Linked DNA regions of Homo sapiens: regions 1, 2, 3, 4, 5 and 6 are each linked to region 7. The links come from fine-mapping of genetic effects on gene expression. A gene starts in region 7. Each other region holds a variant in brackets. All regions are shown on one strand. Distances are between the middles of the regions.

What was found. PIP is the estimated chance that this variant, and not a neighbour inherited with it, causes the effect.
Region 1: its variant is fine-mapped to the expression of KRT23 in whole blood (TOPMed, PIP above 0.99).
Region 2: its variant is fine-mapped to the expression of KRT23 in whole blood (TOPMed, PIP above 0.99).
Region 3: its variant is fine-mapped to the expression of KRT23 in whole blood (INTERVAL, PIP above 0.99).
Region 4: its variant is fine-mapped to the expression of KRT23 in whole blood (TOPMed, PIP 0.99).
Region 5: its variant is fine-mapped to the expression of KRT23 in whole blood (TOPMed, PIP above 0.99).
Region 6: its variant is fine-mapped to the expression of KRT23 in whole blood (INTERVAL, PIP above 0.99).

What each region holds. Positions count from the first base shown.
Region 1 is chr17:41,119,783-41,123,851 of GRCh38, reverse strand. It overlaps KRTAP4-12 (keratin associated protein 4-12), which reads left to right. Exons shown (of 1, transcript NM_031854.3): 1 at 1-761. The coding sequence ends at 335. Among named protein-coding and RNA genes, the nearest start is that of KRTAP4-12, 2.4 kb to the left of the region's middle. RefSeq lists an enhancer at 1-543. The variant T/A (reference allele first, on the strand shown) is at 1,786.
Region 2 is chr17:40,985,760-40,989,825 of GRCh38, reverse strand. It overlaps a transcript of KRT40 not described here. Among named protein-coding and RNA genes, the nearest start is that of KRT40, 3.5 kb to the right of the region's middle. The variant A/T (reference allele first, on the strand shown) is at 1,996.
Region 3 is chr17:41,262,083-41,266,151 of GRCh38, reverse strand. KRTAP9-6 (keratin associated protein 9-6) reads right to left here and starts at 774. Exons shown (of 1, transcript NM_001277331.1): 1 at 292-774. The coding sequence starts at 774. The coding sequence ends at 292. The variant CTG/G (reference allele first, on the strand shown) is at 1,675.
Region 4 is chr17:41,110,641-41,114,709 of GRCh38, reverse strand. LOC124904002 (a long non-coding RNA gene) reads right to left here. Exons shown (of 2, transcript XR_007065754.1): 2 at 2,040-4,069. Among named protein-coding and RNA genes, the nearest start is that of KRTAP4-11, 5.7 kb to the left of the region's middle. The variant C/T (reference allele first, on the strand shown) is at 2,178.
Region 5 is chr17:41,494,376-41,498,444 of GRCh38, reverse strand. No RefSeq gene overlaps it. Among named protein-coding and RNA genes, the nearest start is that of KRT36, 6.5 kb to the right of the region's middle. The variant A/G (reference allele first, on the strand shown) is at 1,575.
Region 6 is chr17:41,282,352-41,286,420 of GRCh38, reverse strand. No RefSeq gene overlaps it. Among named protein-coding and RNA genes, the nearest start is that of KRTAP9-7, 8.7 kb to the right of the region's middle. The variant C/T (reference allele first, on the strand shown) is at 1,690.
Region 7 is chr17:40,935,295-40,939,363 of GRCh38, reverse strand. It overlaps KRT23 (keratin 23), which reads left to right and starts at 1,718. Exons shown (of 9, transcript NM_015515.5): 1 at 1,718-2,018; 2 at 2,411-3,156. The coding sequence starts at 2,761. The region is part of intron 1 of LOC107985072 (a long non-coding RNA gene); the gene reads right to left.

The sequences.
Region 1 (4,069 bases), 180 kb before region 7:
GCCAGTCTGTGTGCTGCCAGCCCACCTGCTGCCGCCCCAGCTGCTGTCAGACCACCTGCTGCAGGACCACTTGCTGCCGCCCCAGCTGCTGTGTGTCCAGCTGCTGCAGACCCCAGTGCTGCCAGTCTGTGTGCTGCCAGCCCACCTGCTGCCGCCCCAGCTGCTGCATCTCCAGCAGCTGCTGCCCCTCTTGCTGTGAATCCAGCTGCTGCCGCCCCTGCTGCTGCCTGCGTCCAGTCTGTGGCCGAGTCTCCTGCCACACCACTTGCTATCGCCCAACCTGTGTCATCTCCACCTGCCCCCGCCCCTTGTGCTGTGCCTCCTCTTGCTGCTAAATCTCTGCTGTGAACACACCACTTCCTTATTACGTCCTTTCCTACAGATGAAGGCTCTCATTGCAAACATGCGGACTGTTCAAGAGAATTGATCTGGGTCCCATAAGCAAACCTCATCCTTAGAAATTCTGTATTTGCATTCTACCTTTTGTCCAAACTCCCTTCCTTCCAAAGGAATTCATTGACAATCTCCTAATAAATTGACAAATTGTCCTCCAACATCCTCCCACCTCTTTGACTTCAGGACATTTATTCATCATGCCTAAGGAATTTGAAGATTGCCTCCATCATTTGTAGGGCCACAGATCTTAAAGCCTCCAACCTTGAAGTCCAGTGAAGTCTCTCTCTTAAAGTCTTTTGCAAACATTTTTGTACCTTGTTATTTCCATGTACCAAAATAAACCTCTATTCTATTGGCACTGAAAATTGAATATGATTCTTATTCTCTTTTTAAAAAGGGTTTTATATTTAGGTCCTGGGTGATTACATTTAACTACACCTGTAGGGCTCACAGCACAGATTAGTCAACCTTCTAACAGAGGTCAACTGACATCGATCACTGCCTAGTTTTTTTCTAGAAAAGTCTTTTCAGGCTTAGGCAAATCAATTAGTCATTTTGTATTCTTTAGACAAAAAGAGTGAAGCTGAAGTCATGAAATATCCATGAATATAACAACAGGGGAAACGTTTTGAAAGATTGATCACAACTCATCATCTTTTAAAAAATAATTTCAACTTTTATTTTAGAATCAAAGAGTACATATTCGTATTTGTTACATGTTGTGTGATGCTGAGGTTTGGGCTACAAATGATTCTGTCACCAGGTACTGAGCAGTGGGTCATTTTTAGCCCTTCCTCTCTCCCTCTCTCCCCCCTTTTTGGAGTCCCCAATTGTTCTCATCTTTGTGTCCATGTGTATCCAATGTTTAGCTCCCATTTGTAAGTGACAACATGCAATATTTGGTTTTCTGTTCCTGGAAAAATTTGCTTAAGATAATGTCCTCCAGCCACATCCATGTTGCTGCAAAGGACAAAATTTCATTCTTTTTTATGGCTGTGTAGTATTCCATGGTGTGAAAATGTCACATGTTCTTTATCCAATGCACTGTTGATGGGCACCTAGACTGATTCCATGTCTTTACTATTGTGCACAGAGCTGTGATCTTTTAAAACACTGTATTTCAATTTCTTTTTTTTTCCAGTAAAAGCAGCTATTAGGTGGTTTAGCAAAGTCCATGTATTTTCTACTGAGTCATGTGTAATGAATCCTCAACACAAACACAGTGGATCTCCTTCATTCTGACTGGCAGAGTTTCAATGGGGAGTTCATGCTGCCATGTAGAGAGGGCCACCTTCACGGCCAGGCAGGTGATGGAAATGAAGGAAGCAGGCCTAGTGAAAACTCACAGGTATGCTGGAGACTGATTTTTTTTCTTTTCGTCCAAAGTCA[T/A]GCCCTTTTTTTAGGATGAAACTATAAAGACCCACATTTCTCCCCAACTAGGGATGCCTCTAATGGGTCATCTCATCTCCAGAACTCCCTATAGGTTCATCTGAGACTTCCACGGAGATTGCCCTGCAGTTTGATTTATCCCAGTGTCAAACTTGATCTTTCTCTCACTTTCCCTTCCTTTCCCTTCCCTTCCCTTCCCTTCCCTTCCCTTCCCTTCCCTTCCCTTCCCTTCCCTTCCCTTTCCCTCCCCTTCCCCTTCCCTTTCCCTTTCCCCTCCCCTCCCTTTCCCCTCCCCTGCCCTCCCCAGTGTTAATCCCAAGAGCATGCTTCAATAAACCTCCTGCATATTGCTCTCCATCTCAGTGACTGCTTCCTGGGGAACCCAGCCTGTCCCCCAAAACAATTTGAAATTCATGATAGCTAATTTGAGAGCTCAAATGACTGACTGAAATGTACTTTTAATATTTTAGTTCCTGAAAGAAATAAGAATGTAAACATAATAGCAGAAAATATATTTAACAGAATATGTAGAAAAATTATGAATTTTATATAAATCACATTTATTATTTTCTAAGGATGTTTAGATCATTTATACACAAATATATGCTCTTTAAACATTTAGACAATACAAAAGAATGTGACAATGTGAACAAAAGTAAGTTTCCCATCATGATCTTTGCCAATCCCATTCAATACCTAATGTTGCAAATTGAGATACATCCTCATTAAATGCATGCATAAAACATGTATGTATTTATTTGAAAACTTGGCTTTCGTTGCACATCTCTTGTTCTGACATTTATTCAAACATTATTTTATGTCCTTCCGGAAATGTTAACATTTTCCTTCACAAAGGCTTGGCAGATTTATTTACATATTTTTCTATTTACTCTTGAGAACTGTGAGTACATGCTTCTTTTTTTTTTTATTATACTTTAAGTTCTAGGGTACATGTGCACAACGTGCAGGTTTGTTACATATGTATACATGTGCCATGTTGGTGTGCTGCACCCATTAACTCGTCATTTACATTAGGTATTTCTCCTAATGCTATCCCTCCTCCCTCCCCCCACCCCACGACAGGCCCCAGTGTGTGATTTTTCTCCATTAAATTTTAGAGAGAATTATTGCTAGTGTATAAAAAGTCTATGGATTAGTATAAGTTCATATTTTATCTGATCTCGCGATTCACACTAATACCCAGCTGACTCTACAGGATTTTACAGGTGTGCAATCATGGTGGCCAAGTGCCTCCAGCCTCAGGCTTGTCCCTGGGGTTCGTCCCCAGCTGCCCACAGTGGGGGCCTTACCATTAACACAAACACTGTTGGGATTTTCTACCTTTCCTGTCTTACTTTCACCGTTTCCTCACTTGTGCTTCCTGGGATCATCCCCCAAATAAATTATGTGCACTCAGGTCTTTTTCTCAAGGTTTGCATTGGGTAGAATTTAAGCTAAGACAACAGATTATCAGCAAACATTTTTGGCTGACTGATACGAAACAGGAAATAATAGTTATTTCAATCAACAAGAGTAAAACGAGGAAGTCAGGAGGTGAAGGAGAACCAGTGCTACCATCTGGCGTTTACTTCCTTCCTGTCTTTTTACTGTGTGAATATAGGCATGCACGTTCAACACTGTATTCTTGGTTATCTATAAACAAGTCTCATTCTATAAATTGAATCTTGACTTCCGCAGTTTCCACGTATGTTATTTATCGGGTGACATGTTACCTATCACACAAATGAGTTTAGTCTTCCTGAAATGAAATTATGATTTCTTTGTTTGGGATGTTTTCCTCCCTTTTATCCAGAAGTCAAAAGATATATACATTTTTTAAAGGACCTTACATGCCTCTATGTCATCAAAAAAACCTTCATTCACTCAACAAACATTTACCACCAGTGTTCTCTGTGCTGAGTATCATGGTAACGAGAATAAATGCCATAGCGCAAGCCTTCAGGGTATTTGCATTGCACGTGGTGGAAAGACAGAAGTAAATGACTATGATACAGGAGAATGTATAAATTATGAGCACAAGGCAGGAAATCATGATACATGAATGGGGTAGCTTAGCAGGAAAGATATTATTGAGGAGGAAATATTTTAACTGGGTCTTGACACATGAGTAGGAGTTTGCAGAGTGGACAAAAAAAGATGAAACATTCCAAGAAGATGAAGCAGTTTCAGCAAGCTTAGCAAATTGTATTCTTTACGGCTTTCTTGGCTACACTAAGACATATTAGGCTTACTTTCTCTTTAACCTTGGACAAGTTGTTTGTTT
Region 2 (4,066 bases), 50 kb before region 7:
ATTTTAAGGTGATATTTCATAATGAAAAAGGGAAAATTCATCAGGTGGTCCTATAATCCTTAAAAATATGACCCAATAACAGAGCTTCAAAATAAATAAGGCAAAAAATCACAGAAGTCAAGAGAGAAATAGATGAATCCAAAATCACATTTGGTGATTTTAATATCCCCTGTCAGGATCTGAGAGAACAAACAGATAAGAAAATTACCAAGGAGAAAGAAGATTTGAATAATAGTATCAAACAATTTTACTCAGTTACATTTACAGAATGTTACCCCCTACAATTGCAGAATATACATTCTTTTCAAATGCATAAGGAACTCTCACCAAAATAGACTATATTCTGGGCCATTAAATTTGTCTCCATAAATTCCAAAATCTAACAAAATATGTTATCTGACCACAATGGAATTAAATGAGAAATCAATCAGATACTTAGAAAAATCACCAAATATTTGAAAATCAAACAACACAGTTCTAATAACCTATGGATCAAATAATAAATACCAATACAGCTTAAGAAATATTATGAGCTGAATGATAATGAAAACAAAAGATTTTAAAAATTTATGGGATACATACAGCATTGGATTAGTAGAAAATATACAGCAAATGATTATATTAGAAAATAAGATTTACATCTTTATCACCTTCATTTATCTCTTCATCAATCACTTAAGTTTTCATTTCAACTAAATAGAAAAAGAACAATTAAAATTCAAAGTAAGGAGAAAGAAATAAATAATAAACATAATATCAGAAATCAATGAATAGAAAACGAGGAAATTAATGAAGCTAAAATTTGATTCTTTGAAAGGATTCATAAAGTACTTCTATTTAGTTATTTTTTAGTTGGCAAATAATAATTGTGTATATGTATATTTGTGGGGTACAATGTGGTGTTTTGATTTATGTATGCATTGTGGAAAGATAAATCAAGCTAAGTAACATATCCATCACCTAAGCACCTGATCATTGTTTTATGGTGAGAACATCAAAAATCTACTCTTTCAGCAACCTTGAAATAAACAATACATTAGTATTAATCTGATGAACATCAAGCCAGATTGATGGGGGAAGCATGAGATAAAACACAAATTACCAATATCTGGAATTAAATAGTGAGAATTTATAGACACTGCAGATACTAAAATTCATGATAAGGATTATTATGAACAACTTTATTTCAGTATTTTTGCAACTTAGGTGAAGTGAACAAACTCCTTGAAAAATGCAACTTTCACACAAAATGAAATAGAACAACTGAATAGCATTGTGAGGTTTCTATAAGTAGAGGTAAGCAATTTGATGTAGAGGTCAGCAAATATACATATATTTGCGTGTGTGTGTGCATGTGTGTGTGTGTGTGTGTGTGTGTGTGTGTGTGTGTGTGTGTGTTTGAAATGGAGTCTCACTCTCACCCAAGCTGGAGTGCAATGGTGTGATCTCGGCTCACCGCAACATCTGCCTTCCAGGTTTCAGCAATTCTCATGCCTCAGCCTCCCGAAAAGCTAGGACTACAGGTGTTCGCCACTATGCCCAACTAATTTTTGTATTTTTAGTAGAGACAAGCCTTCAGCATATTAGCCAGGCTGGTCTCAACCTCCTGCCCTTAAGTGATCTGCCTGCCTGGGCCTCCCAAAGTGCTGGGATTACAGGCTTGAGCCACCGCGCCCAGACATTTTTTTTCCTAGTTAAAAACAAAACACAACTTTTTCACATGGGAGACTCCTGGAAGAGGTGGCCTCACTGGACTCCATCAAACATTTAAGGAATAAATAACACTAATCTTACAGAATTTCATGAAATAAAGAGGAAACATTTCCCAATTTAATTTATGAACAGTATTACTCCATTCTCACACTGTTATAAAGAAATATCTGAGACTGGATAATTTATAAAGGAAGGAGGTGTAATTGAGTCCCAGTTCCACATGGCTGGGGAGGCCTCAGGAAACTTACAATAATGGTGGAAGGGGAAGCAGGCACTTCTTAC[A/T]TGGGGGCAGGTGAGAGAGAGCGTGGGAAGGAGGAACTGTCACACACTTACAAAACCATTAGATTTCCTGAGAACGAACTCACTATCACAAGAACAGTATACGGGAAACTGCCCCCATGATCCAATCATCCAGGTCCCTCCCCTAACACGTGGGGATTTGGGGTTTATAATTTGAGATGAAGTTTGGGTGGGGACGCAGAGCTAAGTCATATTGTGAACCCAGTATGTAACTTGATACCAAAACCTAACAAGATCATTAGAAGAAAAGAAATTTACAGGAAATATTTCTCAAGAACATAGATGGGGGTGGAAATCCATTTGCTAATCCTATCAACTAACTGAATAAAACAATTTACATAAAGGATAATGTAGAGTGACCAAGTTATTCAATATGATTGATCATGTTGTAGGGTCACCCAGATCATCCCTCCACTTCCTTCTTTGCCTTGGGAAACAGATTACCTTGACCACCCTGTGGCCCAGCCAGCTGTGTGTTTCCCCTGCAGCTTGAACCCGAGCTGACCCTTGAACATTCCCAGGCACTGTTAAAAGTTATTTAGGTTGTTGCCCAAAACAGTGAAAATCAACCAAGTTGCTGCACGTGGATACTAGCTCTGGCCCTGAGCCAAATTTCTTAAGGCCTCATGTAAACTCTTATAACCTGTCGCACAAATGTTAAAAGCAACAAGACAACTGCTATAGCAGAGATGCGTGCAAAGTGCTCTGGGAGGAGCCACATCTCCACATGAGGCAGTTGAACGACGTTTCAGCTGAGTCTTGACATGTGAGTTCATCCAGGAAACGAATAGCAGAAGAGCATTTGACCAAGAAAATAGTACCTACGAAGCTTGAAGGATGGCTGGAGCTTAGGGTTTGTGAGACAGAACATCAGGAAGTGAGCCCAGAAAGGTAAATTGGCACCAGGTTAGGGAAGGTCATATTTGCCAAGGTAGAAAGTTTGCATTCCATAAGTGGAAGGCGACAAAAAGCAGGTTTGTATTTTAGGAAAATGATTCTGGCAGCCTAGGTGGATGTTGTAAGGTAAGAGCATAGTATTATGCAAAATAAACTACCGTGTTGTTGTCGGTTTTTTTTTTTATCATGGCCTTTCATGATGTCTATTTCTTTTTCTCTATTCCCAATGTTCCTTTCTTCTGGTGATGATATGCTATAGAAATTGTCACGGGTGATTAGCAACTATCTGGGGCTGGTGGCATGGGGGTAAGAAGAATTTATCAAGATAGTTGTAGGTAAAGAAAGGCAGATATATTAGAGAACGTATGAAAATACGTTGCAAGGAAGCAATGGGCAGCACAGCAGAGAAGGGGCTGTCTGCAAGGAGACAAAGGCGTGCTGGAGATTTTACAGGATGGTGCTTGTACTGTGTGCTGAAGAGGGTTTGTGTGGTACTGATAACACTAAGGTTGCAGTGAGCTAAGTTACATTTTTCTATCAGCTGAAGGTCTGGTGATAGCTGGGTGCAGGAATATTGTGCAGGAGGGCTATGTGTCCTGGACCATGAAGAAGGTGAGTCTTATACATTACCTGCTTTCTTTCTTTGTTTTTTGTTTTTTGGTTTTTTTTATTTATTTATCACATTGTGCAGGTTAGTTATATATGTATACATGTGCCATACTGGTGCGCTGCACCCACTAACTTGCTTTCCTCTGGTCCTGCCAGCCTGACTTCTTTTCCCTAAGGAGGACTCCACAGAAATGAATTCTGGGTGATTTCTATATTCTACGATGGAGACTATAGCTATAGATCATTATACAACACTACCTAATTAATCAAGACCAAAATAAATAGTCCTACCTGCAGGACAATAACCAGTAACAAATAATTTACAATTAGAAATTAGTTCCAGACAGAAGGAAATATTTCTTATTTTACCTGCACTTACATGACTGCATTTTAGCTAACTGGAGCCTGTGATGGACAACCAAAACATGGGTTTTCTTCACAGATATTTTTCTTTTGACTCATTAGGTTACTGTGAAAAGATAATTTTCTTTCAGAGATTTGTAATTTTTCAGAAGTGTTTTTGAATCCTTGAACTCATATTTGTTGC
Region 3 (4,069 bases), 330 kb before region 7:
ATCACCTGAGGGCAGGAGTTCCAGACAAGTCTGATCAACATGGTGAAAACTACTAAAAATACTAAAAATACAAAAAATTAGCCAGGCGTGGTGGCACAGGCATGTAATCCCAGCTACTCAGGAGGCTGAGGCAGGAGAATCACTTGAACCCAGAAGATGGAGGTTGCAGCGAGCCGAGAGCGTGCTACTGCACTCCAGCCTGGGTGACAGTGAGGCTCCGTCTCAAAAGAAAAAAAAGGTCAGTTGAGCAGAAGGTTGTTGTGTGAGGATGATGGTCCTCTGTGGTGCTGCTCAGCAACAAGAATGCTGGCAGCAGCTGGACACACAGCAGGCTGGGCAGTAGCAGGGCTGGCAGCAGCTGGATCCACAGCTCTGGTTGAGGCAACCAGGCAGGCAGACAGTCGTGGGGTGGTAGCAGGTTCTTCTGCAGTACACAGGTGCACAGGAGCTGCTCTGGCCACAGCTGGACCCACAGCTGGTTTGGCCACAGCAGCTGGACCCACAGCAGATGGGCTGGTAGCAGGGTGTGCTGCAGCAGGAAGGCTGGCAGCAGCTGGTCACACAGGTGGGCTGGCAGCAGGTGGTCCTGCAGCAGGTGTTTTGACAGCAAGTTGGGTGGCAGTAAGGCTGGCAGCAGCTGGACACACAGCAGGAGGGCTGGCAGCAGGGTGTGCTGCTGCAGGTGGTCACAATGGTGGGCTGCCAGCAGGTAGTCCTGCAGCAAGTGGTCCTGCAGCAGGTAGGCTGACAGCCAGGGGAGCAACAGTGGGTCATGTTGTCAGGGGTGGAGGGTGGGCTTCTGTTCAGAGGTGAGTTTCCCAGGATTTGATGACCCCTTGCAATCTGGACCTTTTATACATGTGGCCTCCAAAGTTTCCACCAATCAGCAGGATTTTTCTTTCTTGCTGTTTACAGTTGTTTTCCATAGTCAGTTTGGCATTGTCAAAGAGGAAGTCATTTCCTAAATGTTATGAATCTTTGGAAAGTAAGGGTTTAATCTGTTTCTTAATTGTAAATTACTCGTAGAAACTTTGTTTCAGATAAAAGGAAGGCAGTCTCATCATCAGCTTCGTTCCTGCTCTGACCAGCATCTCGTCATGTGATAGTTCCTGGTGACTGGGGAGGCTCAGGAAGTTCTCTCTGCCCAGTCTCATCCTTTGGCTGTATGTAGACTGGGAAGTGTCTGTGGGGAGAAGCATGATGTTGATATATTCACAGTGGTGAATTGAATCCATGCTTGGGACCAAGACTGTTCACCCACCAAAGTCTGATTCAAGACTGATAGGCATCTCTCTATGTACAACCTACTTTACCTGTCTCTTCCAGTTCTATAAAAGCCTCTTGGGAAGAGGGTGTTCAGCACAATGTGTGCTATGTGGCAGAGCAGAGCCAAAGCAAACACGTAGAAAGAGGAGGGGTTCACTGGAATTCACAAAGCATCAAGCAATCTACGTGCTGCGGTGACCATTCACCCTGATTTGTCTGGGACTGAGGGGCTTACCAGCATGAGAATGTGGGACTGGGAATTACTGTGACATTACTGCTTGAGGTCCAGGCAAAGCAATATGAGCTGTGGCTCTAGCCCTAATCCAGGTTACTGGCACAATCATTGCCATTTCTCTGTCTCTGTCTCTGTCTCTGTCTCTGTCTCTGTCTCTCTCTCTCTCTCTCTCT[CTG/G]TCTCTCTGTTTTCAGTGAGGGAATTAGGTGAGTTGAGATGATATCTGATTCCTCTTTGAGGTTTACCATTGTTTAAAACTTTTTAAATTATACCATTCATTTCAGAAGAGTGCAAATTATGAATTCCAACTTGATATAATATTACATTATAAATACATCTAAGTCCCCATTACCAGTTTACAAAATAGAAATTAATTCCATTCCCTCCAAATTATATCTTTTTACTTATCTCCAAAGGTAGCTAGTCACTCTATCAAGTTTTAATCCTGTAGGTCAGTTTTGTTTTTTTCTTTGACTTTTATGTAAATAAAAATTATAGAATTTGCTTCACTGTGTTTTTGGCATAATCAAAAGCAGCAATTATAACCTGGTCATTTCATTTTGGATCCTTCATGTTAGCAGACCAGCAGGTAGATAAAGGAGTTAATATTCCATGAGGGATAATTTTCGTGAAGCCATAGAGCGTAGGGAGAATATATCTGAAACTCAAGAAATTTACTATATATATTAAAGCATTACACTGCCATTAAAAACTATGGCAAATCAAGTGGCTGAAGTTTATTTTCTCACAGTTCTGAAGGCTAAAATAAAGGTGTTGGCAATGTTGTTTTCATCTGAGGGCTGTGAGGGAAATATCTGTTTCAGGTCTCTCTCCTTGACCTGTAGATGTCTATCTTCTCCATGTGTCTCTTACATCATCTTCCCTCTATATGCATCCTGTTTGAATTTCCCCTGTTTATACAGACACCAGTCACATTGAATCAGAAGCACAATTTATTCCAATATGACCTTATCTTACCATCTTGCATTTAAGTGACCCTATTTGAATATGAGTTCTTGGGGACACAATTCGACCCATAACCTTGGAATATCTCGTAGTGTATCCATGCCCATTGATAAACACAAATGAGTAACAAAAGCAACCACAGTTGGACAATGGTGTAGTAAGTAACTAGAGGGTAAGACCCATCAGGCAGGAAGTTCTGAGCTACTTCATCAGGCAATTATCTAAACTAACAGGAGTGCTGGCCAGTGATGAAGGGAGTATAGAACTGGCGGAAACTGATGGAGATTATGAATCTCAGAAGCACCCTATTACAGCAGTAGTTTCTTTTCCCTTCCCTCCCTTCCCTTCCCTTCCCTTCCTTCCCTTCCCTTCCTTTCCCCTCCCCTCCCCACCCCTCCCCTCCCCTTTCTTTCTTTCTTTCCTTTTCCTTCCTTCCTTCCCCTTCCTTCCTTCCTTCCTTCCTTCATTCCTTCCTTCCTTTTCACTCTCTTTCCTTCTGTCTCTTGCTCTCTTTCTTCCTCCGTTCCTTTCTTCCTGTCTGTGTATATTGTCTTCTTCCCATATCTTTCCTAGTTTTTTCCTCCTCTCTCACCTTCTGTTCCTCCTCTTCCTCCTCCTCCTTTTTCTCCTAGAGTTCATGGCTGTCCATTACATTTAAGAAGGAAAGATTGGACTTGAATGGAGCAAATGTTACTGTAGACAGGTCTTCATTACCATACCTGTATATCATGGAACTTAGGGTGCTCATACCAATTTCCATCTGCCTGAATCTGCATCTCTGTGCCTTAGGGCTCTTGTATTGCAACTACAGAAAGTCATGTCACCTGTGCACACTACAGGGAGAAAAATATTCAACTGAAAATTCTAAAGAGTGGATTTATACAGACTCTAGCTTCTTCACTGCTGAAGTTTGAGAATTCAAAGTTGTGTGTTTTTCATCATTTCTGAAAAATTTCCCTTTAGCTTAAGCTTCAGTTGATCTCTGTGATACTGGCTTAATAGTATACCCTTTTCTGTATCACTGCCACAATCCCTTCTGGCCTGTTCTGCCCTTCCTAATACACTGTATTCATTGGAATCTTTTTCTCAGAGTATCTTCTGGGAAAAACCAAACTATGACATTACATCTCTCAGCCTCAATTTCCTCATCTCTACAATTAGAACACTAATGCCTACTTTGAAAGTTTTTTCAATAATTAATGATAATGTACATAAAAGATTTACACAATATCCATCAAATGATAGGCAACTGAAAACATATTATTTCTTTTCTCTCCAGAAATTCCTAAACTAATTTTAATGTTGATGATAAGAATATATTTATAATAATTAACTAGATCAACTTTTTTTCTTTTACTTTAAGTTCCAGGACACATGTGCAGAATGTGCAGGTTTGTTGAGTAGGTATACATGTGCCATGATTGTTTGCTGCACCTATCAACCTGTCCTCTAGGTCTTAAGCCCTGCATGCATTAGGTATTTGTCCTAATGCTCTCCCTCCCCTTGCCCCCGACCCCCCCAACAGGCCCTGGTGTGTGATGTTCCCCTCCCTGTGTCTGTGTGTTCTGGTTGATCAACTCCCACTTATGAGTGAGATCATGTGGT
Region 4 (4,069 bases), 180 kb before region 7:
TGGGACCTGCTGCAGTCCCCTGCTTGTGGGAGGAAGCATGCAGGTGAATCAGTGCAGGAGCCAAAGTGAGTGCTTTTGGCCACCGGCAGGAGCAAACTCTGTGTGGGCCCCACAGCAGCATCTAGGTGGGGGTGCCTGCGACCCCCATAGCCCCAGAGGGCATGTTACAGTGTTCTTTTAACTCTGCCTTCCATGGATGGCTTAAGTGTCAACAGCTCAGTGAGGCCTCTGCCTTTTTGTGTGAGGCAGCTGCCCTCCACCAGCAAGGGCAGAGGGCCAGTGTGACAGTCTTTTGTATCTGCTCTCCTGGCTCCCAAGCTCTTGTCTTGTGTCCAGGAAAAGTGAGGTCACATGAACCAATCAAAGGATGGTAAATGTGGGGGATTTTGTTGCTGATGAAAGTGGCTCTTAGCAGAAAGCGGAGCTGAAAAAGGATGGGGTGGGTAGGTAATCTTCCTCAAAGTTAGGCTGTATCCAGCTGGATTCTTCTCCAAGATTACACCATCAAGCTGTCCCTCTGAATCAAGCTGCTTCTCTCTGACGTCCAGCTGTAGTTCCCAATGTCCAGCTGCTTCTTGCCTCTGCCAGCTGAGTCTGGCATCTTCACAGGCATAGGATGGACAGGATGGAGCCATGAGTGGTTTAGAAAAAGGCAACTTTCAAGCAGGAAAACAGGGATATAAGTTCTCACTTTGGGCCGTGGTTTAAGGCTTTTCAGCTTGAAGGTGGGGTTTTGTCAGAGACCTACCCTTTTCTGCCTAGAATTTCTCAGCCCCCTGTCCCTATCAGAACTTTGTTCCATAGAAGGAATTTCGGATAAGACTTTTGGAAAGCTTAGCCTAGCCATGGATTTGTACCATCAAATACCTATGAGTTGCATGAATTCCTCTGCTCTTGAGGTTCCAAGATAAACTTGGGGCTCCTGGAACTGTTAGAAAGTGACATGCTTTACTTACCACAGGTCAGGAACCCTGTACAGGGACTGTGTAGATAAGGTATGAGGCCAGTTCTCCCAAGGGGCTTTTATTGGCTCCATAAGTCAAATTTGATTCCTTAAAGGAGAGCACACCATTCCAGTCAAAGCCTTGGTAAAATGACCAATTTCTCCAATTGTGTCTTGTTACACATGAAAACAGATTATTATTGCACTTATGCAAATAACTGTATTGCCATAAGTTAAGAATACTCACAGATAGTTTCCAATTCTGGGGAAAATCAGGTAGAGAGAAACAAATATGCTCCAAATATTTTTCACAGGAGTATACTAACTTGTTAAAAGCTGACAACAGCTCAAATAAAAGTTTCCTTGACTAAAAAAAGGAAAACAAGGAGCAGCAACATTTTAAGCAAAAAGTCAAAAAGATTACGTTGCTCTTCTATTAGTTCAGTTCATGCAGTTAATTCCTGTTCTGCTTGCTATTCATGAACATTTCAGGTCTCCATGAGTTCTGAAAGCTTTTCCTCCATTCTGATGTCACAGTCTCCAAAGTTATTAGAAACTTGCCTTCAAGAACACGTGTTAGAGTTTTATAGCTGATTATAAAACCATCTTCTAAAAAGGACTAAAACAAAACAATTGTCCATGGGTGACAAAAAGTTTTAGGTCAGCCATAATCAAAGACACAATTGACAAGAAAATTTGTTACCACTGTGGCACACGATAATTTTATATAACAATTATAATTATTAGTGATATTGTACACCATGTCATATCAGAATTATAGGAGTTTCCCATAATTTTGGTGCACATACCAATAACATTTTTATACAAATACAGCCCAAAGAAAACCAAACACCATTTTATATTTGACAATGCTTCCTGTATAATTTTTATACCAAATAAGTCATTTATTTCATTTTTGGACTTTAGGGAAACTAATATCTTAGAGGATTAATTAGGTCAGAAAAATACACAACTTGTAATTTGATTCTGGAAACTTTGCCAAATATCAAAAGTTTAAAATACTTGATAGGTCATCATAAAATAAGTCAATTTTTCAAACATTAAGCCCAAATAAAACAGCATAAAGCCAATTAAATTTGTTTTTTGAAATTTTATTATCAATCTTTAAAATTTTAATCTTGACCATAAGATACAGCTTCCATAAGCCTTTTTTAACCTTTATAACCTTTATTAAGGGGTCGGTTAACACTTCAAGAAAACCTTTTTAATCTGA[C/T]GCAGGGGCCCGTATGCTGGTATTGCATCAGTGTGCCTTTGACATCAATTATTAACTTGCAGAGAAACTGAACTTATTTTGTCTCTCAAAATCAGCCCTTACAATCTCACATGCCTACCTCTTCTGTGGTAGTTCCTGAGCCTTGAGGAGTTGAATAGCTTTTACTTCTGGCCTTATGTCTCAGGAATGCAGTTTATTTTGATTGGCATCTTCTACCAGGCCTGAAGATGAGGTTTTAATTGCTGTCAGTGCTTAAGATTTAGCAGACCTTGGTGTCCTTTTTAGACCCAGGAGTCAAAGGCCTGTAACTTAATGTCACAGGTACTTTCAAAGCACCTACAGAAATATACATGGATGTAATAACCTTAATTTTAAAAAATTATCTCAGATACTTTTTCCTGAGCAAATCAAAAATTAATAATAACAGCATAGCATTGTTTCAATAAGCCATAAAATCTGTTAGGTCAATTACCCAAAGGCAAAAGAAAAGACCTTCTACACTGCACAGAATATTACTTTGGAAGAAAACATTTTCTTTAGACTTTTAGAAAACATTGTTAGCATCAGACCATAACAAATAGAATTTAAGGAAAATAACTTATATGAGCTGCAAACGAGTTGAAGGGGAGAGAAAACAGCGAGTAAACAGTTGAACTTTGGGTTAAAAAAATTAAAATCTCTTATAATTTAATAAGAGTAAATCAATCCCTTAAGAAAATTTCATCGCTCTAACTATTTTGTTTATCATTGCTTTTTTTTTTTTACATGAAGCCCAATCTTCAGGAAGACTATTATAATTTCCTTTTAATTACAGACAACTTGACCATATAAAAGTTTGTTGGTTTTTTTTTTAATCCTCTTATTATGACTTTTACAGACTGTTCATGATATGCTTGGACTTTCTGGTTTGTTTTGAACATCCATCTTTCTTAAACAATCATTTTATTTTAGGTCTAAATTTACCATACAAGATCTTTTCTCATATGAAATTATTTCTCTTTAAGCTTCCTTACCAAAAAGAACCCTCTTTATCCTCTTTATTTTTATACCTTTCTTTACATCTCTCTGATTTCCTGGTTCCTTTTAACTTGTCTTATACATAATCTTTAAATAAGCATTGAATTAGATGACAATTGTTCACCTTTTTAAAAAGGAATTGTTTACCTAGATTATTTATGAAAACTGCAATAGTCATCATTTAAAGTTATGGAACTGCCATTGCAAAATTATAACTGAGACAGTGAAAAAGATCTGACCTAATTGACTCCATCTTGCTTCTAACCTCCAAACTGTTCTTGTTCAATCCTGGGCACAGGCTGAACAGACGTTGAGAGGAACATAGTTTATAGTTTACCTTTGAAACAAAGATTATAACAGTTCATTCTCAAACTAAATCTTACTGCCTGTGGACTAGACCACCAAAACCACAAAATTAGAAGTTACAGTAATCTCACTAAATTCAAGATGTGACTATTTTTATTAAACCAATATCAATGTCTTATTTATTAAAGATTATACAAGCAAAGATCATTCTATTACAGTTTTGTAACTCCATGGCAAATTTTGACACCTTATGGTATTTGACAGGGATAAGCATGAAATTGCTTGATTAATAAATGCAAACAAAAATGCATGCTGGCAATTTTTAAGACATGTCTAATATTACTTTACCAATAATTTTAAAGCTAGCTTATTTATTAAAGATTTTACTTGTTACATAAACTTCAGAAAGCATTCAACTAGTCTTTTCTTTTTTCCTGATAAAGTATTAGATTCAAGTGCTTTTTATCTTAAGCCAATTAATTAGAACTCTTTTATATATTTTCAGTAGCGAGAAATTGTGTACACATCACATAAATATATAGACATAGTAGGCATGCTGATAGAAGTAC
Region 5 (4,069 bases), 560 kb before region 7:
GGTTAATTAAAGTCAAGTGCTCAGAACAGTCACTGGTGCATAGTAAGTGCTCAGTAAACAAGATACCTCTGGTCATGATCTTTCTCGTTCTCTTTTCTAAGCTATGCGTTCCTTCTGGGTAGGGCTGGTTTCATCGTCAGTCTCATCCTCATACCTAGAACGTTATAAGGGCTCAATAAATGTGTTGAATGGAGAAATGAGGGAATAAATAGATACAAGCTATGGGAAATGAAAGTGGTAAGTAAGTATTGTACAGAGAGCACAGGAGCCCCTACCCTAGACTGAGAGAGGGGCCTGGGGTCTCAATGCTGAGCTACCCTGGCTGCTCCAAGGCACCCTGGGGTCCAGATCCCAGGGCTTATGGGGCCCAGAGCAGCCCCTCTTCCTGAGACCCCGGGCATGGCTGTTTAGGGGCAGCCCCCTCATTCTCTGAGCTAGTTTTGCAAAACTTGGTGGGGGGTGAGGGTAGTTGCCCACAGGAGCAGTGAAATGAGCTGCACTCTAGGCCCAGTGGGGACTCTGGCCTGGGAGCCTTTCACCCAGACCCCAGCAAGGACACTGAGAAGCTGGGCCCCATCTGAGGACCTATGTGGCCCCATCAGGAATCCCGGGGAAGCTCAGAGGGCAGGCCGAGAGCAGGTGTTTCTGCCAAAGCTACCCCAGGAGCCTTCTTGAGTTGGGAGTAGCAGGTGGTCATCCCGGCTCTCTGGTCAGAAGGGTAGGAGAGGCAGTGGGTGGGGAATCCGCCTCATTCTCTCTGGGACTCAACTCTTTATCAGGTGTGGGGCGGCCATTCAAGTGAGGGCAGATTTATCAGGCCTGCTGGGTCAATGCTCCCCTTCCCAGGGTTGACCTAGGTGCCACGCCCATGCCAGTCTCACACCGCTGATTCCCAGTGCTGTGGCTATGAGGAAACAGCCCCTTTCCATTGGCACCTGGCTAATGTCCATGCCAATGATTGTGAATGAGGCCATGTCAGCACAAGAGATGCCGGAATGAAAGAGATAACGGAAAGGGGGACACAGTAGCGCATCCTTTACTCTCATCCTTTCTTTCATTTCATCTTTACAGCAATCCCATGAATTGGCACAGCTGTGCCCATTTTACACATGGAAAGACTGAGGTCTGGACGGGGTCAAAGACCTGCCCAGCGGGAGAGCTGGGACCTGTGGTTCCAATGTGCTTTCCAAGACTGGGGCTGGTCCTTTGCCAAGGGTCAAGCATTCGGCTCCAGGAATCTGGGGGAGAAGTGAGGCTCTCTCCCAGACCCCAAAGCCTAGGGGATGAAGGAATCAAGCCTGTGATGTTCCTGGGGTGTCTTGGCACCTCAGAGCCAGGTCGGGTTCTGGAGGGAGGAGGGCAGCGGGTGGCACACAGAGGTGGAGAGACGTGGCGCTGTTCTGTGACTCCTGGTGCTTCAGCCACTTCCTCCTCACCCCAAGCAATAGGCACCTCCCTCTCTTCCTGGCTCCACCCTGGGGAATGAGCCAGGCTGCTGCCCTCCTCAATGCGATGGCTGTCCTGCCCAGGCCCTGCAGGGGGCAGGCTCACCCCAGAAAGCAGATCAGTGCCTC[A/G]ATGGCCACCTGCTGGGATACAGGGTGGAGTGGCTGGGCCCTAGACCCAGTCCTGGCCGGGCCTGGTCTCAACATAGGGCCCCGTCCGGTCCCCAGCTGGGCCCTTAACAAGCAGGGTGTGGCTGCAGGCACATTCCAGGCCTGAGACCCCCTTGGCGCCTGTTCCCCTCTGTGTTGGGTGATAGTTTTGAGGATCCACAGAAGACCCTTGACAGGCAGGGTGTGGCTGCAGGCACATTCCAGGCCTGAGACCCCCTTGGCGCCTGCTCCCCCTCTGTGTTGGGTGATAGCTTTGAGGATCCATAGAAGATCCTGAGTATGAGATGGGGTGTCTGGGCCTTCCTGGCAGGGGACTCTCACTGTCCCAGCCAAGGGAAGCTCTGGGGAAGATTAGGAAGCAAAGTCACAGCAGGAGGTGCAGGGCGATGGGTGTGATGGACTCTTCCAGATTTTTTTTCTTTTTTTTTTTGAGAAAGAGTCTTGCTCTGTCACCCAGGCTGGAGTGCAGGGGCATGATCTCTGCTCACTGCAACCTCTGCCTCCTGGGTTCAAGCAATTCTTCTGCCTCAGCCTCCCAAGTAGCTGGAATTACAGACATGCACAACCACACTCAGCTAATTTTTGTATTTTTAGTAGAGACAGGGTTTCACCATGTTGGCCAGGTTGGTCTCTAACTCCTGACCTCAGGTGATCCACCTGCCTCCGCCTCTCAGAGTGCTGGGATTACAGATGTGAGCCACTGCGCCTGGCCACTTCCAGCTTTTCTTATCCAGCTGTGGGGGCCCTTCCTTCCTCCCTGCCTGGGTCAGGGCATCTGAGGGGCGGCCCAGGGAACTGGCCTCTTTTGGATGGTGTCCCTGGGACTGTTGGTGGCTGGAGCAGAGCAGAATATGTGGGTTGTGTCCCTTTGAGCAGCTCCTCTGGGGGCTTCAAAAGAGCTGGGCACTCTTTACACCCTCCATCCTCCTGCAGAGTTTGAAAGAAAATAAGCAGGTGGCGGGTGCTGCTGAGACTTGCACAGGCACCTGTTGGGGGTGGGTATTTGGGGGACTTGGCCAAGAGCTGGTATCCCTTTTTATGAACAGTCATAATGACTGTGGCTTCTTTCATCCAAGGATCTCAGACCAGTTTGAAAGTAAAATCCACAGTGTCAGGCATGGTTAATTACAGCCCGGAGCCCGCAGTCTGGTTTGCAGACACGCTGTTGTTCGTAGGAAGAGAGTCAAATCAATTGCATGCCGGCCCCTGTAAATGCAGACTACAAGTCCAATCAAACAGGGTGTTTGGAAAATTCGCTTTATGGTTCAGCTAAGTGATACTTGAATCAAGGGGACGCTAGACACTGAGGTACCAGCTCTTTTCTCCCAGTGGGCCTGGCTGTGCATCTCCCACAATCACAGCTTCTTCAAGCACACCAAGGAGAGAAAGGACGCTCTGAAATGCTCCAACCATAAAAGTGGGGTGGGGGAGTTAGGGACTCGGTGAGTCTGAGCAGGAGACTGTGGACTCTTCCAGATGGGAGCTGGCAGCCAGTGCAGCTGTGCAGGGAGCGCTGGCCCCAGGGGAGAAGGTGGTGGGCCCTGAGATGTGGAAGGCCGAGCTTGGCCACAAGAGGACCAGAGAGGTATGGCTTAAGGCTGGAGTTAGGGTGGCTCTCTGGGCATCTGCCACGGCAAAAGCAGCTTGGAGCAGAACCTTGAAGTCCTGGGCAAGTGCAAAAACCACACCCCAGGGGGAGAGAAAATACTTTTGTATTTTGGGGGAGATGAGATTTCTAGAGTAACTCCGGGCCTGGTCAAGTGGGACTTTGAAGGCCCGATGAAGGTCAAGGCCTGATGGGGGCTCAGGAACAGGCCAGGAACAGCAGGTTGGGAAGCTGGACCTATGCTCCTTGTAGGGCCCCAGAGTCTCAGGAGGAGTCACTGCTCAGGACCAGGACCAACACTGTGGAGGGGCAGCCAGGCAGTGGGGGGGACCTCCTTCACCACTGAGTCATGTTCAGATTGTCTTGAACCTGGTGAGGCCGGGTGATAGCAGGGGGCAGGTGGACATTTGGGGCACAAGCTGGGGGGTGGGAAATGGAGCAGAGAGAGACTTGCTAAATCTTGTCCAGGAAGGTCTGAGTCACCCTGTTGAAGGCAGCTGCCATCAGGATGGAATGTCACTGAGGTGGCCAGGATGGGAGGCAGGATAATTCAGCTTCTGCATCTCCAAGTACTGTTTGGACTTGGGAGGGCAAGAATGACAGCCACTGACAGCAGGGTGTGAGAGGACAGGAAGGCACGATTCTCCAAGGGAAGCCCTCTGTGTCTGACCCTGAGAACAGCCAGCCATGGTGACAGGCCATCAGGGAAGGAGGGAAGAAAGAGCTGCATTTGTGTGGCCAAGGCTCTCAACCAGTGATGTTTCCTTACTGAGGGTTTCAGACACAGGACACTCAGATCAGAATTGCAGGTAAACAAACAACAACAACAACAACAACACAGACACACACA
Region 6 (4,069 bases), 350 kb before region 7:
GGGCCACTATTCCCCTTTCCAGCTGTCCTTCTACACAATTCTGTTCAAATATTATTCTTTGAATATATAAGTAATATTAAGAAGTCCTCCTTTCTTATGTCTTAATCATAATTTTACCAGTAGATCTTAAATGAAATCCCTTATATTCTTATCATCACCTATTTGTGTAGGTACAGTTCTTTCATAGTGGACTTAATGTTGGTCTTAGTGAGTGGTTTGTTTTATATATTAAGTATACTTATGCTTTGCTATATTTATTACTATTGGGCACTTAAAGGGGAATGCTTGGAAAAAACTGGGTTGATTTTGCTAGGAATCAACCTTAAAGGGCAGAAGATTATTGAAATTTGACCCTTTCCATCTTAATCTTTGTTCCAAGCAGGAATCTGACTGGGGCTGAAGAGCTTGGTTTTTACCTTGTCCTTATCTTGCATAAGGAATGCTTTTGTTTAGAAAGAGGATCTGAAGGTTTTCTGGTCTGGGACAGGCCACAGCCACTGTGGAACGCAGTGATAATAAAGGATGGATAAGGCTTGCATGCTTTCCTTAGCGAGTTTATACAATCTATCCAATTTAGGCTTTCTTGATTTATATTCTAGAATAATGTCTATATTTGTTTATTTAAGTGGGAATCATTTTAATTTTATTTCTGATTTTTAATCCTATATTTTCTGCATTAGTTATCTCCAAACCTACAATTTAATTAAATTTATCCCAGCGTTTGATCTTAGAATATAACATTCATTCTTGTTTCCTGCATATTCACAAGAAAAATCCCAAGCTGTGTTATCTGAACCATCTGTCAGAAGAGGTTCCAAGGAGAAGGTGTCCAGTGATGAAAGAGCCGAGTTTTCCCTATTTTGAATGTAGGAAACACAGGCTGGTTTTTCTGAAATTAATCCCTGTTCTTTCCATAACAATATTACATTGCACTAGAGGGCCTAACCTAGGGATTGTCTTTTATGTGTAATTCAAATTCTAAGAAGAATAAATTAATTATAGTCCAATCACCACTATAACTCACAGCAGGGAGGAAGGAAGAAGTATGTGGTGTGTCACTCATAACAGGTTGGTGATGTTAGATTATAATTAGATGAACAAAGACACACACAAAATCATAAGAGTCAACCCAACACTCTGATGATAATTCTACATTATCACTATGATGACAACTCTGTATCACACAGTAATCTTTTTTTAAAGACTTAGTGAGATAAGAAAGATAAACAAAGCCCAAGTTATCCTGACATGCAATAGAAATATTACAAATAGTCAACAGATATGATGGTAGACATGAACTAAACCAAATATAAATTTCATCATGGATGCTCACCATGCAATGGTGTGAATGAGAATGCATTGGTACAGTCAGATATCATCCAAGACTTGGAACCTATGTTCAAAACGATCAAAACCAAATTATGTAGCGTCACCTTAAAAAGATGTATGCATTCAAAGTCTGAGGAATTGATTCAAGTCTAATTGAAGATGTAAAAATGTGAAAGTTAAATTAGAGTATTGTTGAACCATGGAAAATCAGGGTTAAGACAAGTGCTGGGGTGAATGTTGGCAGTGTGCCTCCAGGCAACTGCCCACAGGAGAGGGACTATGAATTTTCAATTTCCATTGGTGAGAACTATTGTGAAACGAACATGTCAAATGCCATTCAACATTTAGTTTATATAACTT[C/T]CTGTCTGATTCCTTACTCATGTGGTGTTTTAGAAGTTCCTGTTACTTAATTCTCCTGTAATTTAATAAATAGGCATCCTTGCTTTTTGGGCTTGGCTAACAGGTGTCTGCTCTAAGACGTGGCTTAACCCTTAGAATGTAAGCAAAATCAGGTCTCTGAGTCTGCAAGGCTAAAGGCCAGAACCAGGTACATTTATCAAGGGTTGTGAATTCTACCTTGCATGCCATTGGGGAGATAGTCCTTATTTTTTTTTTTTTTTTATCTCCAAGGGAATGCCAATTATCATGACAGTGTGTATGCTTTCTTTAAAGCATTATGTATGTGAATGCTTACGGAGTTCAGAGAATAACAACCTGTTAGCAATTAATTAATCAAATAATGATGGGGCAAGACAGAGTGTTTAAGGATCTCAAAGAATCTCAGGCATGGAAGGAATCCTAATAAACTTCCTGCCATGTGTTGCCAGATCCAATGCTTAAGTGTCTAGTAAATGGAAATTCATACACCCGGGGTGGTCTGTTCCATTCCTAGGAAGATCTTTTAAAGAGCTTTTAGAGAATTTCTGTACTCACTCTAGACCCCCTGAACTTTTTCCTCATTAGAAGCATCTGTGACTAAGCAATCAGAATGGCTTTTCTGAGCGCTTCCCTACCCTTAGCTCCATCCTCTATTCCAGTGCCCTTTGCTGGAAAATCACATTCATGTTCCTGTAAATAGCCAATTATCTTCCTGCTCTGTAGAATGCAGTTCCAGCCAAACAAGCATTTCCTTGCCTTGCTATCACAAATTTTTACATGGTCCTTTTGCAGCAAGTTTATCATCACTAACCTTTGCTTACCAAGTCCTTCTCATTGTTAAAATCTAGATCAAGGTGGTTTACCTGGTTGCCTAAGAACCTTCTGCTCAATTTTAGTGATTCTGAGGTCCCCACAAAATAGCTAGATTGTTGGATGTTCCTTCATCCCTTCTCCTCCCATGTGTGCTGGTTTTGTGATCTGCCTTTGCAATGTATCATCAATTTCCTGTGTTTGGCCAGGAAGACTGCAGTATGTCCACACAAAGAGAGCTCATGGGTTCATCTTCCCTTCTTTGTTCATGCACAGGTTTTCCACTGTGGAAGAAGGCAGGAAAGTCTGGGCCATGAGGATCGAAATCACATAGATGAGTATTTGCATCATGCCTGTTCTGCTACCTACAAGCTGCAGGCTTTGGGGGAAGTACTTAATATATTCCAACCATGTTTTATTGTTTCTGCATTTACATTTTTGGGGAATTTTTGTACCTGAGTTCTTTCAGTATCACCCCTGTTGTTCTACTTGGTAAATTGATTCATGGGTTCAAAATGGAAGTTTTTTATTTCCTTCCCTCTCTGATTCGTTGCTAAGATACAATTCTGTTAGATACAGTCGTCATGAACCACCCTTCCTATATCATTAATAATATAGGCTCACCTTCCTCACTTCTACTGTATAAATTTTGTCTCTTGTTTGTATTCTTCCCGAAGCACAATAAAGGTGAGGATGTTGAATGTCTCGTTCACTTCTGTAATCACAGCACCTGGCACAGTACTTAACACACAGTAAGTGCTCAATAAATCTTATTTAAATAAAGGATTGTTTTAATATCCAGATGTAAGTCTTTATTCTTATTCACTCTCCCGAAGTCCCAACTATTGGTAGAATAAGGAAATGAGACTGTGTGAGGGTACCAAGTAATTTGCTGTCATATTCAAGACTCCATAGACCCGGTTATGTCTCTAGACTGGTAGGGGCAGGGAGCATAGCACACACAGTGAGTGTAGTGTAGACAGCTTAGTGTTTGAAGCCAGGTCAACTGTTAACTGTACAACTTTGAACAAGTTCCTTCATCTCCCTTAGCCTCTGTTTCTTCATCTGTGAAATGAGGAAAATAAAACATTGGTGGATTATGAATTAGAAAAACCTAGACTAATACCTGTAGTTACTCAGTAAATGGTAGTGCCTCAGCTCATCCTTGAATGCATCAGGAGAGCAAGCACTTAGCAAGTCAGACAACATGGAAGCCTCTTTGGAAAATCCCTCCACCTTCTTAGATTTCCTAAGACCTAACTACTATGTGATAGCTCAGGCCACAGAATATTATTTTTCCCCTGGAGCCAGTATCTGTTCTTTTTTTTCAAGAAATATCTTGGTATCCTCTTTGGTGTTCAGCTCTTCGGAAAGTCTAGCTCCCACTTTGGGGGACTACAATAACGTCTATTGTCATTATATCCAGTATACTTTTTAAGAGTGACCAGTTTCCTTTATTTTCTTTCTCAAATCCTTATGTTTTCTTTTTCTAATACTCTGATGTTGAATCTCCTCTGCTTCAACTTTGCCTCACAACATTGAGGCACTGGTT
Region 7 (4,069 bases):
GGTTGCAGTGAGTCAAGATTGCGCCATTGCACTCCAGCCTGGGTGACAGAGCAAAACTCCATCTTGAGAAAAAAAAAAAAAGAAGTTATGGGAAACCATCATATAACAGTACTAGAAGAGACTATTTCTCCCCAGTGCTCTCAGATCTCACCACCAGTTTTTCCTGGCCCTGGTCCTGCTATGACACAAGAAATCTTTTGCTCAAGGATAAGTCCTATAAATCAAAACTCCCACACATGGACATAAAATGAGACAGTGGCCAAATCTATGGGGTTGATAAGTCACTGCCACTCAGACATGCCTGAAATAATTAGAGAAGCATTAATTTCATTGTAGATTCTGGTGAGAGAATTTAGAAAAAGGCAGTGCAGCCCGGCCCTTGCACATGCTAAAGGTAAATGTTTTCTTCCTTGGTAAGTCTGGGTCCAGGCGAACAGGAACCAGAGCTGACCATAACTTTGATGACCAGGAACCGTCCACATCCACAGAACACTGGTTGCCACCACTCGCCAAACAAGTCTCTCTAGTTCCCTCATTTGCTCTATTTTTATCACTTGTCTCTTTTGTCTTTTTCTCATATCTGAGATGTAAGTGACTGTCGGCACTCTTTCTAAGCACTCTCCAAGCTTCCCTGAGGCTTGGAGGCTCATTTTTCCAGCTCGTGCACAGTGAAATAAAAAATATTCAGAGACTCTTCCCTGATAAGGTTTTGTTGTAAGACTGGGAGGAGCAGAGCTGGTGTGCTTTTGGGTGGCTTTATTTGTAATTGGAAAAGATTGGCCTTCATGGATGGTTAATCTATACCCAGGAGAGGCGTTTTCCTACTTTCTAGTTCTATAACTCACAGTCCTAAAAGGAGCAGAAGTTGATGGCATCAGGAGACCTGTGTTAAAATCCTGACTCTAAAAAGTTTATGATTGAGTCAACATACATTTGCAAAATACCACCAAGAAACCAGACTTTGGTGCTCAAAAATGGAAGACATAAACTCTGCTTTCAAGAAGCCTGCGGTCTCAGAAGGGTGTGGCAAATGCAGTATAATGGAGTGAAAGAACGGAGTGGACTTCATCCCAGGCACAGGAGGTGGCTGCGCCTGGCTAGGGGCTCCCAGCTTCCACCATGAGGTGGGATGCCAAGGTGTCTGCCCCTCTGGAGGACCTCGGCATCCAGAAGAGGCAGTTTCCTCCTAGAGGGTCACCCAACTCATGCAGGAGAATTCAGAAAATGATTGTTGAAGGAGGTAGCCCTTGAACTATAGAAGAGGTAGGGGTGAGTGACTTTCCAGGCAGGGAGGACAGCACAGACTCGGGCAGTGTCACCTATGAATTCATGTGCTCAATTACACTGTACATGCGAATCAGCTCTGGATCATTCATCCCTATGAGACCCTGATTCTTTGTCTGCAAAATGAAGACAACAACCCTTGCCTGGATACATAAAGAGTTGTGAGGATTCAATAAAGAATATAAAAGAGCTACACCAATTGGCAAGTCCTATTATTATGAAAGAGAAGTGTGGTACAGGACCTGTCAAGATTCAACCCAAGATAACAGTGCTATGTGGAGAAAGAATCTAGCCCTGGCTCTGCCACTAACCTCCCCACCACCATAGGCCTCAGCTTTCCTCATCTGTCCAATTAGTGGCTTGGAACCAGAAAGGCCAGAAGCCCTTCCTGCGCTGATATTTTATTTGTAAGTCCCCTTTAAATCCAACTGCCAGTAACTAGCACGTGGCTCCCGCCCCCAGACTGCTTCTTTATTCATTCCTAACCTTTACCTTGGCAGATGAAATATAAGATTCATCAACCACATTTGACAGCCCATGGCAGGTTTCCTGTTTTCCATCGTCCCTCTGCAGGTCACAGACACACAGAGCCCAGCCGTGGCAGGCTCAGCCGGGGTCCGGGGCTGCTAACAACGGCTACATTCCTCCCCCAGGGCCAAGGGAAATCCTGAGCGCAGGCCAGGGTTGTTTGGTTTTGAGGTGTGCTGGGATGAAAGGCACCCTGGAAGTGGAAGGTTCGGTCATTCATTAATTAATTACATCTATAATTGAGGGTTTGTTCTTAAGAGCGAGTCCTTTGAAAGTACTTTCCTTCAAACAGTGACTGCCACAAAGGCATCAGATATTCACCACCTTCTCGGCTGCCTCAGCACAGCAAGCTTTATTCTGGGACCTGAGATCCTGTTCTGAGCTGGCTTTCCCTTCTCCAGGCTCGCTCACCCTCCCTTTAGAGGTGGGGCTTATTGGGGGTGGAAAAAGGTGTGTGTATCTCTGTTGTTTAATGTCTGGTTTTTTGTTGCTGTTGTTGTTGTTTTGTTTTGGTTTTGGTTTTTGGTTTTTTTTAAGGAAATCTATACTACATCGAATATGCTTTCTTTTGGGTGGACTTTAACCTAACCCATTCCAGGTAAATGAACAATGGAAAAACTTCACGGCAAGATTAGAAAGATACCTGAGCCCAATACCCGCCTGATGTCGTGGGCCACACCTCCGGGTTACCAGGGGAAGGGAGGAAGCAAACTGTCATATTGATGTGGCTCTAAACAACAACAGTGTGCGAAGGCCCAGGGGCACTTTGGGATTGACCAAGAGGAAACACAAGTTGCACAATGATACAATCTTGTTGGTACAATTGTCAGAGAAGGGAACTCCCACAGCAAAGGCCATAAAACCATCCAGGGCAGTCTGGGGCGGCTCAGTTCTGCGGTGCCAGGGAGTGGAGCAGAGCTCAGCCCCGTCCCAAACACAGATGGGACCATGAACTCCGGACACAGCTTCAGCCAGACCCCCTCGGCCTCCTTCCATGGCGCCGGAGGTGGCTGGGGCCGGCCCAGGAGCTTCCCCAGGGCTCCCACCGTCCATGGCGGTGCGGGGGGAGCCCGCATCTCCCTGTCCTTCACCACGCGGAGCTGCCCACCCCCTGGAGGGTCTTGGGGTTCTGGAAGAAGCAGCCCCCTACTAGGCGGAAATGGGAAGGCCACCATGCAGAATCTCAACGACCGCCTGGCCTCCTACCTGGAGAAGGTTCGCGCCCTGGAGGAGGCCAACATGAAGCTGGAAAGCCGCATCCTGAAATGGCACCAGCAGAGAGATCCTGGCAGTAAGAAAGATTATTCCCAGTATGAGGAAAACATCACACACCTGCAGGAGCAGGTAAGATGCTGGGTGACCCTGGAGATCCAGATGGGGCTGCTTTGCCAGGGGACCCTCGGGAGGAAAAATGAGTCCAGAAGACAATTTCCAGGAAAATGGCATCAGCGCTTGAAGTAATTGTGCACAAAGGTTTTGGGGGATGTTTTCTTATTATATCTTAAATTTGGAGTGGGAAACGTCTGTTTTGTTTAATTAGTCTACTGTCCATGGATAATGTAGAAAAAGAAGGCAGCAAAAATGATAGAAGTGCTACAGACTGTTTCAAAAATGAGACTACTGATTTCTCACAGACCAAAAACATCTTTAAAATGTGAGGCAACCAGCTGCTGTTTAATGTCACTTATGACCCAACGATGTCATAGAAATGATAAGGGCTGGTGTTCATGCTGCATGCTCAGTGCACCAGGCATAAGAGAGTGTTTACTTTCTCATTACCTCAGTTCTGCTCCACCTCAAACTTTTTTGAACAATGTGGTTATCCATCGACAAAAGGCTGTTACACTATTTTGAAGATTATGCCTAAAAGTTGTCACCACACCAGCATATAGGTCATCATGACATCCCTAGATATTTCCGTTTGTGGGTTGCTTGCAGTAAAGTTGCTCACAGTTCTGACAATGGCATATTGCTAGAACCAATAATAATAAAATGAGCATAATTTTTAGAATCTGAGAGTTGAGATGGCTATAAAGACCTTGTTCAAAAAAAACCGAACTCTTTAACCAAACCTCAAAAAAGCTAAGCAAATACCTTCTGGGATGTCTCATAACATTAGCTAGAAGTAGAAGGAATCCAATCATCTCATAGGTTATGTTTTAAAGCTATCTAACTCCCCTCTTATATAAAGCAGTCCCAGAAAATTCCCTGTAAGACCATGATTTAACCTCCCCTAGAAAGGGTATCACAAGTTTCC